2 separate regions of the Homo sapiens genome follow, and region 2 is linked to region 1. Evidence: fine-mapped QTL for protein levels in blood plasma. A gene starts in region 1. The other region holds a variant in brackets. All regions are shown on one strand. Distances are between the middles of the regions.

Region 1 (8,072 bases):
GCTGGGCAGCTCCTTCTCTGTGGTCAGGGTAGCCCTGTGGCTGACGCTGCAGTCATTGGGCTGAAGCTGTTCCCTGAGTCCCCAAAGTTGCCCTGCATCTGCGCCTCTGGCTAGGCTGCCCCAAACTACCTGGGGTAGTGGGGGGCAGCTGTGGTGGTGACACAGCTACCCCTGCAGAAAACCTGTGGAGCGCCTACCTGGAGAAGGGTGACATCGTGGAGAAGCATGGGCTGCCCTCCGCAGATGCCCCGAGCCTGAAGGAGAGCCTGCCTCTGTACGTGGTCGCTGACATCGCCACATCCTTCACCGTGCTGGTCGGCATCTTCTTCCCTTCTGTAACAGGTGAGCCCTGCCTGCCTACCCACCCAGCCCTGTCCCCAATCCCGGGGAGCCCCTGAGGGAGTCTCATCTGTTTTTGGAGGCATCATGGCTGGCTCAAACCGCTCTGGGGACCTTCGTGACGCCCAGAAGTCTATCCCTGTGGGGACCATTCTGGCCATCATTACAACTTCCCTCGTGTGTATCCTTTCCCAGGCCTGGGGCAGGTGGGGCAGAGGACGGGAAGCGCTTGGCCTGTGTACGTTGCCAGGTCACATGCACAGACACCCCACACACTCATATATAGCTCCCCTTCTCATGCACACATGCACATACACACCACGAGACTCCCAGCTGTAGGTGTCCTGGTAGTCTGGCTGGGGTGGGGGCACGTGGTACTATTCAGGGACAGTGGGGTGGCAGAGGCCGAGTTTTCCTTGACGCCGCCGCAGACTTCAGCAGTGTGGTTCTCTTTGGTGCCTGCATTGAGGGTGTGGTTCTCCGGGACAAGTGAGTGAGCTGGGCCCCCCTCTTTAGCAGCGGCTGGGCTTTGGCCTGCCCTCACACCAGCTCCCAACCCCGTGGGTGGTCCTAAGCCTGCTGGCTGCCTTTGGTGGTCTGTGCCATCCTTCCGGACCCCTGACATCCCTCACTCTGGTGGCCCCTGCAGGTATGGCGATGGTGTCAGCAGGAACTTGGTGGTGGGCACACTGGCCTGGCCTTCACCCTGGGTCATCGTCATCGGCTCCTTCTTTTCAACGTGTGGCGCTGGCCTCCAGAGCCTCACAGGGGCACCACGCCTATTGCAGGCCATTGCCAAGGACAACATCATCCCCTTCCTCCGGGTGAGCCCCTCTGCACTCCCCCATGGCCTGGCTGCTCCCAGGCCCTCGCCCGGCTGGGGAGAGAGATAGGGAACACAGATGCAGCACGTCCTGCCCTTATTGGCCCCCGGGGCCAGGCGGCCATCCATGAGGAGCTACTGAGAAGTGCCCTGGGCCTGGCACTCACCTGGGCCTGGAGCTGCCTGGACCCAGAATCTTCATGGCCTGTTTAGGGCTCATCCAAAGGAGAGAGGCCTGGTGAGGTGGAATCAGGGAGACTGGTGACACCCATAGGGATAGACACAGGGGCGGCCTGAGCCCCCAAGGCGGGCCCTGGGGGTGAGGGAGGCCAGGCTGGGGTCTGGGGCCCAAGGTGTGGAATGGGGGTGACAGGACCCAGCTTCCTTCCTGGTGCACACAGGTGTTTGGCCACGGGAAGGTGAATGGTGAACCCACATGGGCACTCCTCCTGACGGCACTCATCGCCGAGCTGGGCATCCTCATCGCCTCCCTCGACATGGTGGCCCCCATCTTATCCATGTGAGCTGGGGCCGGGCAGGGCAGGGGGATGGGGAAAGGCTTCCTGAACCCCAGCACCTCCCCGTGGCTGCGTCTGGTGTTGGAGGTCCAGCTGGGAGATGTGGCAGGCTGCATGGGGAGATGTGGCCTGACAGGGCTCAGCCCACCCCTGCATTTAGGAGCAAGCCTGGCACCTATGCCAAAGCTATAAGGTGACCAATATGTCCACACCTCCCTGAGGCCCCCAGAGCAGGTGGCCGGCAGACCTTCCCACTGGACAGGGCAACCACCGCGTCCCTCATGCCTCCATGAAGCCACTGCTGCCCCTTCCATCTGTTAGTTTGTTTTTTGGTTTTTGTTTTTTTTTTTTGAGACAGAGTCTCACTCTCTCACCCAGGCTGGAGTGCAATGGCATGATCTTGGCTCACTGCAATCTCCGCCTCCTGGGTTCAAGCAATTCTCCTGCCTCAGCCTCCTGAGTAGCTGGGATTACAGAAATGCACCACCACGCCCAGCTAATTTTTTGTATTTTTAGTAGAGATGGCGTTTTACCATCTTGGCCAGGCTGGTGTCGAACTCCTGACGTCAGATGATCCACCTGGCTCGGCCTCCCAAAGTGCTGGGATTACAGGCGTGAGCCACCATGCCCAACCCATCCATTTTCAAAGTCATTTGCTTTTAACATTCTGGAATCAGCCAGGCAAATCTGCGTGCCAGTGCCTTGCAGGGAGTGGCCAGCATGTGGTGACTCCCAGGGACCCCGAGGCAGCGCTTGTTTGGTTGACTCTGTCCAGGCTGGGGTCCTCGCCCACCCTGCTCCGTGGCTGACGCTCCTTCTTGCTTGTGCGGTTATGAAAGGCCTCCTCTTCCCTGCCCACTCAGCCTGCAGACTTGACAGGGGCCCTGTACCCCTGAGCAGGCTCCATCCCAGCTACAGCCAGGCCTGCTGGAGCCAGCACCCTCTTGTCCACCCCCCCACACCCCTTCCTCTCACCCAAGAGCACACCTGAAACTGTTTTGCCACAGCCATCTTGGGTGGTGACCCCCCTTGTGCCCAAATCAGAGGCTACATCTCAGCCTTTATCTCGGGCCTCCTGCTGGGAGCCCCTGCCCCCTGGCATGCCCTGTGTGGGTCCTCCTGCCTTCCTGCGCACCCGTCCTCGGGTGCCTTCCTGGAGGGCTCATGCAGCTGGCCCTGCCCATGCGTGGGACTCCCACGCCCACCGCAGTGACTCTTAAGTATCTCTGACTGGTTGCATTCAAATGGTCCAGCTTATCTTCCATCCTCCCCTTCATGCATGGCAGCCTCTCATCCAGCTGGTCACTCAGGCCAGAGGCCTGAATGTGGCCTAGAGTCTCCAGGCACTGAGCTCTTCCTGCTGCCCCTGCACCACCCTCTTCAGCTCTGCCCTGTTACTCCCCTTCCTACCTCCTCCAACAGCAAACCCTTGCCCATCCTCTGCGATCTGGCTCCGAGGACTCCTCCACAGTAGTCTCATTGCCTCAGGCCATGGAGGTGGCAGCAATGAGGTTGAGAAGACCTTGCTGAGCCATGCAGGGCAGGGCCGGGCCACGCCCCGTTTCTGGGCCAGGCCCAGCCTGACATCAGGTCCCCAGCTGCCGAGGAGGCTGCTCTTCGCCAACCGCCCTCTGTGCCGCAGGTTCTTTCTGATGTGCTACCTGTTCGTGAACCTCGCCTGTGCGGTGCAGACACTCCTGAGGACCCCCAACTGGCGGCCCCGGTTCAAGTACTATCACTGGTGAGCCATGCCTCTGACACGGGAGACCCTGGGGAGGCCAGGAGCCTCATTCTGGGTGAGGCTTGGGTTTCCTGGGTAGGGAGCTCTTGAAACACTGTGGGGAGGGAGATTATAGGGCTGCGGGGGACTGGACCTAGGTCTTACACCCAGTGACCTGACCACCCACCTGGGACCTCCCACCCGGGACCTGACAGGGCTACCAGGGCATGGGCCAGGCTGTGGCCAGGGGTCCTCCTGGTCCTGCCCTGACTCTGCCCTCCCCTCTCGTCCAGGGCGCTGTCCTTCCTGGGCATGAGTCTCTGCCTGGCCCTTATGTTTGTCTCCTCCTGGTACTATGCCCTGGTGGCCATGCTCATCGCCGGCATGATCTACAAATACATCGAGTACCAAGGGTGAGTGAGCACTGCCACCTGGCCTCTGCCAGCTGAGGGGGCCCGGCCGAGCAGGCAGGGTGGTCTGGCATTGGGGTGGGCAGGGAGCTGGGCCACCGTGGGTGCCAGGACTGGGGACTGTAACTCAGGACCCCTGGGTGGTCTTGAGGGGCAGAACCCCTCCACCTCGCATCCACATAGACAGAACCCCCTGGGCGGCACCAGGGGCTCACCAGCTGTGGTGGAATCTGCAGGGCTGAGAAGGAGTGGGGTGACGGGATCCGAGGCCTGTCCCTGAGCGCTGCCCGCTACGCGCTGTTGCGGCTGGAGGAGGGGCCTCCTCACACCAAGAACTGGCGGTGAGTTCCCGCCAGACCCTGGCCAGGGCGCAGAGGTTCTTAGGGGTCGCTGTCGGGGTCAGAGGGTCGAGAGGTGCCGGCTCCCCATCCTGGGGCTGCCCGGGGCACCCTCCTGGGCCATGCTACCCAAACCTGCAGGGACCACGACCCGAGAAGGGAAGAAGAGGAGGGGCTCCCTAGAACGGCCGGCCCTGGTCTCAGGCTCCCCCCACCCGGCCACTGCAGGCCGCAGCTGCTGGTGCTGCTGAAGCTGGACGAGGACCTCCACGTGAAGTACCCGCGGCTCCTCACCTTCGCCTCCCAGCTCAAGGCTGGCAAGGGCCTGACCATTGTTGGTTCTGTCATCCAGGGGAGCTTCTTGGAGAGCTATGGCGAGGCTCAGGCCGCCGAGCAGGTACTTGCTTTGGGGAGGGAGAGCTGAGCCAGACTACAGGGGTCTGGACTGCAGCTGGCACGGAGGGGAGGGCCCAGTCTTGGCCAGGGTGGCCAGCCAGGCAGCCAGCACTGCTGCCACCTGAGAGCTGGCACAAGGGGGAGCCAGCAGTCCCATCTTGAAAACTTGGCCTCTGGGTAGGCAGCTTGTTGCCCCCAGGCCCTCCTCCACCCAAAAGTCGTTTTGTTCCCGAGGGGCCTTGGGAGGGAGCCCAGAGGCAGGAAGCTGATGGCCTCCCATTGGCCCTGGGTGTGTTCCCCACAGACCATCAAGAACATGATGGAAATTGAGAAGGTGAAGGGCTTCTGCCAGGTGGTGGTGGCCAGCAAGGTGCGGGAGGGGCTGGCCCACCTCATCCAGTCCTGTGGCCTGGGAGGCATGCGGCATAACTCCGTGGTGCTGGGCTGGCCCTACGGCTGGCGACAGAGCGAGGACCCCCGTGCCTGGAAGACCTTCATTGGTGTGTGAAGGCCTGGGGCCTGGTGGGCAGGGGTGAAGTGAGGTGGCAGTGGGCGGAGGGCCACAGACTGGTGGTCAGCCGTGCTCCTCCTCCCCAGACACCGTGCGCTGCACTACGGCTGCCCACCTGGCCCTGCTCGTGCCCAAGAACATCGCCTTCTACCCCAGCAACCACGAGCGCTACCTGGAGGGCCACATAGACGTGTGGTGGATCGTGCACGATGGTGGCATGCTCATGCTTCTGCCCTTCCTGCTGCGCCAGCATAAGGTAGACCAGGGGGTGGGTGCAGATGAGAGGGGCTAGGCCCTTGGAGGAGCAGCTGTGACCAAACCGCCCACCTGGTCCCTTGCCTCAGGTCTGGAGGAAGTGCCGGATGCGCATCTTCACAGTGGCCCAGATGGATGACAACAGCATCCAGATGAAGAAGGACCTGGCTGTCTTTCTGTACCATCTGCGCCTTGAGGCCGAGGTGGAGGTGGTGGAGATGGTGAGCCCTCTGCCCTGCCCTGGCCCCGTGGATACCATGTCCCGTGCAGCTGGGTCCTCACGGCCAACCCTGTCCCCAGCATAACAGTGACATCTCTGCATACACCTACGAGCGGACGCTGATGATGGAGCAGCGGTCGCAGATGCTGCGGCAGATGAGACTGACCAAGACTGAGCGGGAGCGAGAAGTCAGTGCCCTTTGTGGTTCACGCCAGGGCGGGTGGCAGGGTCAGGCCTTTGGAGACCGCATCGGTGGGTGCGGAGGAATCAGAATGACTCACCGCAGCCCTACCCAAGCTAGTGCTCATTTCCCGGAGGCAAGGTGGTCACATTGGGCCAGACAGGCCCCATCCCCCTTTTCCTATGGGACCAAGGCTATCTCCTGCAATTGTCCTCAGGCCCAGCTGGTCAAGGATCGGCACTCGGCCCTGCGGCTGGAGAGCCTGTACTCGGACGAGGAAGATGAGTCTGCAGTGGGGGCTGACAAGATCCAGATGACGTGGACCAGGGACAAGTACATGACTGAGACCTGGGACCCCAGCCATGCCCCTGACAATTTCCGGGAGCTGGTGCACATTAAGCCGTGAGTGCAGCAAAAACAGCCCCAGCGGCACTGGAATCTAGGGGTGGAGGTGGGGTGGGGCAGACAAGTAGTGTTAGATGGGCCAGGGGTGGGGACCCTCCTTGCAGGATGGCTCATGGCGACCTGTGACTGGCTACACTACGTGTAGGGACCAATCCAATGTGCGGCGCATGCACACTGCTGTGAAGCTCAATGAAGTCATTGTCACGCGCTCCCACGACGCCCGCCTGGTTCTCCTAAACATGCCTGGCCCACCCAGGAACAGTGAGGGCGACGAGAACTGTATCCCTTTGTGGAGAGGCAGGCAGTTGGGAGGTGGATAGCATGGGAGGTCAAGCCAGCGGCTTCTCTCCTGGGCACCCCTGGGTGGGCATGGCCCAGGTGGCCCGGGTTGCCCGTTGATTCTGTTGTTGCCTCCTTGACTTGAGGCCCTGCAGACATGGAGTTCCTCGAGGTGCTGACCGAGGGCCTTGAGCGGGTGCTGTTGGTGCGCGGTGGTGGCCGTGAAGTCATCACCATCTACTCCTGAGCCCAGTGTCATCTTGTGGCCTGGAGTCGAGGTCTTGGCCAGGACATAACAAGCTGTGGTCTGGGGTAACAGCCTCTTCCCAGCACCCACCTGCCAGCCCTGCTTGCCTGGCCCTGTCCTGGACCCAGCTTTGCTAGGTCTCCTTGGAAACCAGGCCTGGGCCTCAAAATGGAGATGGATCCCAGGTCTTGTGGGACCCTGGGATGTTTGGGGACTTTACTATCTAGCACCCCAGTAGGCCTGTCCTGGCCAGAGAAGACTGGTAGGGGCCGAGTGGGGTTTGAAGGCAGCCGGCCCGGCCCAGCCCAGGAGCGCTATTTATTGCATATTTATTGTTTGGATGTCACCATCAGAGACGAAGGGAAGGGTAGCCAGGGAGGGAGTCCAGCCCAGCTGCCTGCAGGAAGATCTGGCTCAGTCTACTATGGGCAGGGCCCCCCACCAAGCTGAGCCGAATGGAGACAGCTGAGCTGAGGCCTGACTTTTTCAATAAAACATTGTGTAGTTCTGGGCCTCCTGCTGCCCCGGCTCTGTTTCCCCTGGCGCCAAGAGAAGAAGGCGGAACTGAACCCAGGCCCAGAGCCGGCTCCCTGAGGCTGTGCCCCTTTCCGGCAATCTCTGGCCACAACCCCCACTGGCCAGGCCGTCCCTCCCACTGGCCCTAGGGCCCCTCCCACTCCCACACCAGATAAGGACAGCCCAGTGCCGCTTTCTCTGGCAGTAGGCACCAGGGCTGGAATGGGGCCGCCCGGCTCCCCATGGCAGTGGGTGACGCTGCTGCTGGGGCTGCTGCTCCCTCCTGCCGCCCCCTTCTGGCTCCTCAATGTGCTCTTCCCCCCGCACACCACGCCCAAGGCTGAGCTCAGTAACCACACACGGCCCGTCATCCTCGGTAAGCCCCCACCAGGCCCCTGATGCACCACGCCAGACCCTGGGGAGCCTGGGCCCCAGCCCCTGGCAGCTGACCTGGCCAAAGCCCTTCTGCCCTGCATAAGCCCCGACATAAGTACCTGCCCTGGTGTGGGGAGGGGCCAAAAGCTTGTCCCTTAGAGGAATGACGTCCCTTCTCCCACCACACTGTGACTCTCAGTTGTCTAACCCAGGGGGGGCGGAGTGGGGGACGGGGTGTGCCTGAGGTCTTGGCTGGGGCATCACAAGCTGTGGTCAGTCACAGCCACACCAGACTCTGGGCCAAGCCCCACCACTCCTTCCTTGGCCCCCACCCACCAAGGACAAGATGCCCAGCCCAGGATCGGTGAGCAGGAGAGGCCCATCCATGCCCGGCCCCTATTAGGCCCAGCCCCCATGCCCCCAGACCTATCTGTTCCCACCTTGGACTTTGGCAATAAAGGAGCGCCAGACTGGGTGTTTGCTCTGCAGAGGCAGGGGTCAGCGGCCTTGGCCTCAGCACCTCAGCGCCTTCCCTTCCT
Region 2 (8,516 bases), 670 kb before region 1:
ATTTTTTTTTTAACATTGATAAATTACAGGCTGATTAAAGTTTGATGGGAAAAATGCAATGGGTGGAGGAGACTGAGGATACGGGAGAAAGAGGGAGGGATTTTTGAAGCAATTGGCTGAGTGGAAAAAAGGGGCTAAGATCTACTGCTAAGTGATGGATTGATCTTTTTTTTATTTTTTATTTATTTTTTATTTTTATTTATTTATTTTTTTGAGATGGAGTTTCGCTCTTGTTGCCCAGGCTGGAGTGCAATGGCATGATCTGGGCTCACCGCAACCTCCGCCTCCCGGGTTCAAGCGATTCTCCTGCCTCAGCCTCCTGAGTAGCTGGAATTACAGGCATGCACCACCATGCCAGGCTAATTTTTAGTAGAGACGGGGTTTCTCCATGTTGGTCAGGCTGATCTCGAACTCCTGACCTCAAGTGATCTGCCCGCCTCGGCCTCCCAAAGTGCTGGGATTACAGGCGTAAGCCACCGCGCCTGACCTGGGTTGATCTTTAAAAAGGGGCACAGGGGATCTGCTTCAGTGGCTCACGGCTGCATTCCCAGCACTTTGGAAGTCTGAGGTGGGAGGATCACTTGAGCCTGGGAGGTCGAAGTTGCAGTGAACCATGGTTGTGCCACTGCACCCTAGCCTGGGTGACAGAGTGAGACCTTGTCAAATGACAAACAACAACAACAACAACAACAAACAAACAAACATCGCATGCAGAGCTGTGGAAAGAGGCTGGGCACCGTGGCTCACGCCTATAATCCCAGCACTTTGGGAGGCCGAGGCGGACAGATCACCTGAGGCCAGGAGTTCGAGACCAGCCTGGGCAACATGGTGAAACCCCTGTCTCTACCAAAAATACAAAAATTAGCTGGGCGTGGTGACGCAAGCCTGTAATCCCAGCTACCTGGGAGGCTGAGGCAGATGAATCGCTTGAACCTGGGAGGCAGAGGTTGCAGTGAGCTGAGATTGCACCATTGCATTCCAGCCTAGGCAACAGAGCAAGATTCTGCCTCAAAAAAAAAAAAAAAAAAAAAAAAGCTGTGGAAGGAAGGAAGGTGGGGCACACACATGTTCACAGATGCAGGGTGCGTGTGGGTGTGGGAGCTTATGGAAGTTCTCTTGTGATGAAATCATTGGCTGAGGGTGAGCACACAGGAGGACGGGTTGTGCACGAGAAGAGAGAGAAGGCACGAAATAATCTCTAGGAGTGTGGGAGAGTGAATGGCCTGAGAAAGGTGGTAAGATGGTAAGGTTGCCAAGCAATCCCGGGGGTCCACTTGAAGTTAATGGTCACGCATTTGAAATAAGTCCCTGTGGTTGTGAGTTTTCCCCAGCCTGTTCAGCTGCACGGGTACAGCTGTAGAGTAGAAGAGTTGGAATTAACGGTGTTTTTCTGGGTGACTACAGAAAAGGGGCAAAGAAGTTGAGGATGTATATAAAGGAGTGACTGTAATGATGGACCATGGAATGTCAGACGCAAAGACGGAAGTGAGGCAATGTCAAGTGTAAGAGATGATGGAAAGGTGGTAGAATCAATGGATTGTGGGTCCAAAAGGAGTCAAAGAATTACTGGAGATGGAATACTTGAAAAGCGGGCTGGAGGTAGAGGTAGTGATTATCGAGCAGGATGCTTGAAATCAGGATTATGGGGTTACAGCTATCGGAACGATAGTTGTAACTTCTCACTAGCATAATGTTCTCAAGGGTCCTCCTCTTTGTTGGTATTGAAGTGATTATGATTCTTAGTGTTGGAGAAAATGTGAAATCATCAAGGAACAGGGAAGAGTGACTCAGGTTCTGTAGCTGTCTGCCTTAAGGAGGGAGGAGGGTGGTCCAGTCTGATGACCTGGGACCTACAGTCAGCTCACATGAAGAGGGATTTACTCCAGGGCATCCAGCGATAGAAGAGGAATGATAAGGCTGGCTATCAGGAACTGGATCCAGAAAGTCAAGAACCAAGGTTGTGCTCTCTGGGCCACCAGGCTTTCTCATTTCTGCCTCTCCCTGCCCTTCCCTTTCTCTCGAAGCCATCTTCTTCCTCCTCACCTGACCTGACATGGCCTCCACAGCCCCTCCACAGCCCCAACACAATACAACCTTGCCTTTCAACTTTCTTCTAACTGCTTTCATCTCTGTCCCACATTTCCAGGACAAAGAGCCTGACTGCCTCAGCCCAGCCGAAGAATCGGTGTCTTTCTGGGTCTACTGTCCACTCTTAGGTCAGTCAACCATGGTCCGGGGGGATGGGGGCCTGTGGCACAACATAGCAGCCCAGGCAGTAGGCTGAGACCTCTCAGAACCAGATGTGGCTGGAGAGACCAGGAGCAGCCTCACTGGTGCCTCTCCCAGGAGGCACAAACACCAGCTAAGTAAGGAGAAGGCAGGAAGCTGTGCTCCGATGTCCCCAGGTGATGCTGAGGTGGAGCTCCGCTCTCCACCCTCCCTGGCCATCCTGCCCTGGGGAACAGTTTCTGGCTCTCAGCACCTCCCTGTCTGATAAACCCTCAGCGTTGCTCAGAGTCATCTGGACAGACAAGATTCTGCCTTCGGGCCTGAGAAAGCCTGGCTGGTACACTATCCATCCCTATGATAGCTATTTGGGCTTTCTGTTTGTTTGTTTTTAATTTTAAGACAGAGTCTCGGTCTGTCACCAAGGCTGGAGTACAGTGGTGCCATCTCAGCTCACTGCAGCCTCGACCTCCCAGGTTCAAGCGATTCTCTTGCCTCAGCCTCACAAGTAGCTGGGACTACAGGTGCCTGCCACCATGCCCGGCTATTTTTTTATATTTTTAGTAGAGATGGGGTTTCACCGTGTTAGCCAGGATGGCCTCTATCTCCTGACCTCGTGATCCGCCAGCCTCAGCCTCCCAAAGTGCTGGGATTATGGGCATGAGCCACCGTGCCCAACCGGGGGTATTTGTTTTTTTTTAACGTTGATAATTTAAGGATGACTGAAGGCTGATGGGAAGATCCAAAGGGCGAAGAAGATCAACGATGCAGGAGAAAGGGGCAGGGATTATTGAAGCAACGAGCTGAGTAGAAAAGAGAGGCCAGGATTGGGGGCTCTCTCACTGACCAGTTCTGTGGGATTTGCTGGGACCTCTTCCTATCATGTCACAGAGGCTTCAGGAGAAAGAACTTTTGTCACAAGAGATCAGCTTGAGCCACAACCCTGCCTAAGTCCCTTAGCTGATTCTCATGGGGGAGACAACAAGAGAGAGAGGAAATGGAAAGGAAAGGACTCTCTGAGATTCTCTAAATTGTGGGGAAATGCAGGTTATTTTATTTTATTTTAATAAAATTTTATTGGCCAGGTGTGGTGGCTCACACCTGTAATCCCAGCGCTTAGGGAGGCTGAGTCAGGCAGATGGCTTGAGCCCAGGAGTTCAAGACCAGCCTGGGTAACATAGCAAAACACTGTCTCTATAAAAAATACAAAAATTAGCTGGTGTGGTGGCACATGCCTGTGGTCCCAAGTGGCTGAGGTGGGAAAATTGCTTGAGCCCTCGAGGTTGAGGCTGCAGTGAACCGTGATGGTGCCACTGCACTCCAGCTCTAAAAAAAAAAAAAAAAAAAAAAAAAAAAAAGAGAATGTATTGATTTTTTTTTCTTTTTTCTGAGATGGAGTCTCACTCTGTTGCCCAGGCTGGAGTACAGTGGTGCGATCTTGGCTCACTGCAACCCCCACCTCCCAGGTTCAAGCAATTCTTCTGCCTCAGCCTCCCGAGTAGCTGGGATTACAGGTGTATGCCACCATACCCAGCTAATTTTTTGTATTTTTAGTAAAGATGGTGTTTCACCATGTTGGCCAGGCTGGTCTCGAACTCCTGACCTCAGGTGATCCACCTGCCTTGGCCTCCCAAAGTGCTGGGATTACAGGTGTGAACCACCATGGCCAGCCCTTCTTTCCATTTTTTGACATAGTGTTCTGGACCTTACTTTCACTTTATATAATTTAGAGGTTGTTCTCTATGAGTATATAGCAAGCTCTCTGATTATTTTTCTTCCTTTTTTTTTTAAACTGCTGCATAGTATTCCACTGAAATGGATCTCCCTGATTTATTTAGCTGATCTCCTACTGATGAACATTTGGCTCATTTCTGATCTTCTACTACTGTAAACAATGGTGCAGTGAATATCCTTGTGCATAAATTATTTCACACATGTAAAAACATATCTGTTAGATACATTCCTAGGAGTAGAAGTACTAGCTAAGAGGCATATTTTATTTGCATTTTCTTTGCATTTGTTTGTTTGTTTTTTGAGACACAGTCTCACTCTGTCACCCAGGCTGGAGTGCAGTGGCACAGCCACGGCTCATTGCAGCCTTGACCTTCTGGGCTCAAGCAATTCTCCTGCCTCAACCACCTGAGTAGCTGGGACTACAGGCATGCATCACCATGCCCAGCTAATTTTTTTGATATTTTGTAGGACGGGGTCTCACTATGTTACTCAGGTTGGTCTTGAACTCCTGGGCTCCAGGGATCCTCCCTCCTCAGCCTCTCAAAGTGCTGGGATTACAGCGTCAGCCACCAT[G/A]CCTGGCCTCATATTTGCACTTTCAACTTTTATAGATTTATTTAAGTTATGCTCTATAGCAACTGGGGTTTTGTGCAAGAACCGGAAACCACTTTAGGTAGTTCAAGCAGGAGATTTAATGGAGGAAATTAGGTGTTCACAAAATTGCTGAAATGACTGTAGGAGGGGCTTTGGCCTGGGCCTCCAAGAGGTCAATACACAGGTAACTTTCTGGGGAAGCCACTCCTCTGCGATCACTACTGGAACTGCAGCCAGAAGTTAGGATCAAAATGTCACTACTGACACCTAGGATGCCAGATAATGGACTCTGAATATGCTGCAGAAAAATCTCAGGTCTCCACAACCCTCCTTGACAGCAGAGATAGCCAAAAGTACAGAGAAAATGGCCTTTGTCTTTCCATCACCTACCCCGTGTCTCATTAATTCTTCTAACTAGTAGGACCTAATTTCTATCCAAAACTCTAGCTGCAAGGGAGTCTGGGACGTGTAGGTTTAGCTTTCCAATGTCTCCACCTAGAAGAGGGTGGAATGAGTCAGATTGAGAGAGCCAGTCCACAGTACTCTCTACACCCTCCATAAAAGGGGTACCAAATTACACTACCACCAACATGGGATCCTGTCAACTCTTTGATTTGCTAATCCAAAACATGGAAAACAGTACCTTATTGTTTTAATTAACATTTCTCTTATTATGAGAGGTTGAGTATCTTATCTTACAAATCATCAAAAAATATATCTCTGTGAATAGAATCCAATGGGAGTGCTGCCCCCTGGAGTTGTGCAGCATGGTGACCCTGTAATATGAATAAATGCCATTTAAATGTCTTTTTTATGTATGAATTCTGTATGTCTTTTGTCCACAGATGGTCTTTTAGTTTCCACCATGATATATGTAACATACATGGAGTCTGTATAATGGTACAGTTTTCTAAACCTAGAGTTTAGCTAGTGATCCCACAATTTTTTTCCCTTTGGGTCATTTCTCCCCAGGATATAGTCCCAGTGAGGGGTAGGGAGGGACAGCCTGTACTTGAAATGTCACAAGCATGTCAAATTCTGGAGGTCTAGAACTTTGAAATTAAACTACACTCAAAGTGTCTCTCCAATGCCAGTTTACACAAAATTCTAGTTTGCCTCCTGCCTGAAGATTTAATTATGAATCATGCTGGATGGAGGAGTGAGGACACTGTGTGCCTAGTGAGCTGGGCGGTCATTCCTGCCTGCTGGGCTTTATGTTCCTGTGGTTTATAATGTCTTCTCCAGTGAATAATAACCTCGGGTTCATGCCAGGCCTTTTGGTCTTTGTTGATGATCTATAGGGACTGGAAGCCTGAGATCTCAAATTCAAGAACAGGCCTTTTAAGCCTGGTCAATCAATCAGGCTGCATAGTCAGAGCCACAGATAGTACAAGCTGCCAAGCTGCTGATGTAGAAAAAGACCCAAGTACTCAAAGGAACACACCATTCGCCAGAAAGTATGGGGTTGATTTTTTTTTTTCTCTTGAAATTGTTCAGTTGCTAGCAGGCTTCAGGTGTCAGTGGCAAGGCCAGCCAACAAGGAGAGCACTTATGGGCTTTCCCATAAACCCCAATCTGATGCACCAAATTTTGCCATTAGGTATTCACTCCTTTGGCTTAAACATTCCCCCATCAACCCAGCACTCCCTCCTGACCTGCTGATTATTTTCCACTTGGTCAAGCTGGAAGTGTTCTGGTCATTTTTGATCCTCTCCTCTTCTCCTCCTCCTGTCCCAATCCAATTAATCATGATGCCCACTGAATTATTCCTTCAGGGTACCTGGGGAAGACATGCTGGAGTCGTAAAGTACCGGCTATGACCCTGAGCAAGTGCTTCCAATTCTCTCTCAGCCTCGGTTTCTTCACCTGTAAGGGAGAGCTAACAATATCCTACCTCACAAGGTTTTTGTGAGGATTAAAAATAATACATGGAGGCTGGGCACGGTGGCTCATGCCTGTAATCCCAGCACTTTGGGAGGCTGAGGTGGGCAGATCACAAGGTCAGGATTTCGAGACCAGCCTGACCAACATGGTGAAACCCTGTCTCTACTAAAAATACAAAAATTAGCTGGGCATGGTGGCATGCATCTGTAATCCTAGCTATTCAGGAGGCTGAGGCAGGAGAATCGCTTGAATCCGGGAGGCAGAAGTTGCAGTGAGCCAAGATCCTGCCACTGCACTCCAGCTTGGGGGACAGAGTGAGACTCTGTCTCAAAATAAATAAATAAATAAATAAATAAATATTTAAAAAACCACATGGTTTTATTAAAAACAAAACATGCACACATATACCCCAACACTTCCCCAGAAGCCTCTTCAGCTAACTAGTGTCAAGCCTTGTGACTTACAAGACCACATAGATTATATTTTAAAACACACACAATACTAATAATACATGGTTTTATAAAAGTGAGGTCACAGCCCATGTATAAAACACAGATATTTGAGAAAAGAAAAAGAAAACCCAACAACAACAAAATAGATATGTGGCCCAAGTTGATACTTTCCTTTCTAGTCCTTTCTTTCATGATCTAACCCTACGTTCTTGCTTCATTTCTGCCACAGCTTCTTTCTTTCTTTTTTTTTTTTTTTTTTTTGAGACAGGGTCTTACTTCCATCACCCAGGCTAGAGTGCAGTGATTCAATCTCAGCTCACTGCTGCCTTGACCTCCCAGGCTCAGGGGATTCTCCCATCTCAGTAGGTGTAGCTGGCACCACAGGCGCGTGCCACCATGCCCAGCTAATTTTTTGGGATTTTTTTTTTTTTTGAGACAGAGTTTCGTTCTTGTTGCCTAGGCTGGAGTGCAGTGGCGCCATCTCGGCTCACTGCAACTTCCGCCTCTCAGGTTCAAGCGATTCTCCTGCCTCAGCTTCCCAAGTAGCTGGGATTACAGGCATGCACCACCGCGCCCGGCTAATTTTGTGTTTTTAGTAGAGATGGGGTTTCTCCATATTGGTCAGGCTGGTCTCGAACTCCTGACCTCAGGTGATCCGCCTGCCTCCGCCTCCCAAAGTGCTGGGATTACAGGCTTGAGCCACTGCGCCCGGCCTTTTTTGTATTTTTTGTAGGGACAGAATTTTGCCATGTTGCCCAGGCTGATTCTGAACTCCTGGGTGCAAGTGAGCCTCCCGCTTCAGCCTCCCAAAGTGCTGAGATTATAGGCATGAGCCACCGTGCCTGGCCTTGCAACAACTTCTTAACTGTCCTTGCAATGACTAGTTCGTTTCCCTGTCCCACCTTCAGTTTACCTCCTCTTCAAAACATCCTCCTTCTCACTGCTGCTTGCTCAGCTTAATTTTGCTAAAACGCTTCTCAGATGATGAACTCCTCGTGTTCAACAATCTTCGATGGTCCCCATTGTCTTTGGGTATTGAGTCCAGATTCTTTAGCCTGGTGATGAAGGCTTTCCTGAACTGAACCAAACCTAGTCCAATTAACAACCACCTCCCGGTAGGACGCGGTGGCTCACACCTGTAATCCCAGCACTTTGGGAGGCTGAGGCGGGTGGATCACCTGAGGTCAGGAGTTTGAGACCAGCCTGGCAAACATGGAGAAACCCCATCTCTACTAAAAATACAAAAATTAGCCAGGTGTGGTGGCGCACGCTTGTAATCCCAGCTACTTGGGAGGCTGAGGCAGGAGAATCACTTGAGCCCAGGAGGCGGAGGTTGCAGTGAGCTGAGATTATGCCATTGCACTCCAGCCTGGGCAACAAGAGTGAAACTCCGTCTCAAAAAAACAAAAAACAACCACCTCCCAAGTGCTCCCAGTGTGCCCACCTCAGGCTTGACTTAGGGATGGGGATTTGGCAATGAGTAAGATTCAGTCCCCTCCACTAACTAGTGGAGAGACAGACAGATGCATAGACATTTTCTTTTTATTTTAATCTTTTTTATTTTTTGCCTTTTATTTTTTAATTTTATTTTTTGAGACAGGGTCTTACTCTGTCACCCAGGCTGGAGTG

Alleles and levels. Alleles are on the strand shown, and positions count from the first base shown. The strength of an association depends on the size of the effect and on how common the allele is.
With allele G in place of A in region 2, the plasma level of the protein whose gene starts at base 7,362 in region 1 is higher (weak association).

Evidence for each region. PIP is the posterior inclusion probability: the model's chance that the variant is causal. The UK Biobank Pharma Proteomics Project read protein levels with antibody pairs (Olink). The fine-mapping took linkage between variants from a reference panel, not from the people measured, so its PIPs are less certain.
Region 2: its variant is fine-mapped to the plasma level of the LCAT protein (UK Biobank, PIP 0.97).

Annotation. Positions count from the first base shown.
Region 1 is chr16:67,943,410-67,951,481 of GRCh38, reverse strand. It overlaps LCAT (lecithin-cholesterol acyltransferase), which reads left to right and starts at 7,362. Exons shown (of 6, transcript NM_000229.2): 1 at 7,362-7,534. The coding sequence starts at 7,381. SLC12A4 (solute carrier family 12 member 4) reads left to right here. Exons shown (of 24, transcript NM_005072.5): 9 at 178-342; 10 at 422-520; 11 at 771-828; 12 at 989-1,163; 13 at 1,564-1,682; 14 at 3,323-3,421; 15 at 3,694-3,813; 16 at 4,047-4,151; 17 at 4,377-4,545; 18 at 4,849-5,044; 19 at 5,142-5,311; 20 at 5,400-5,531; 21 at 5,611-5,718; 22 at 5,929-6,113; 2 more. The coding sequence ends at 6,642.
Region 2 is chr16:68,610,528-68,619,043 of GRCh38, reverse strand. No RefSeq gene overlaps it. Among named protein-coding and RNA genes, the nearest start is that of CDH3, 31 kb to the left of the region's middle. The variant G/A (reference allele first, on the strand shown) is at 4,534.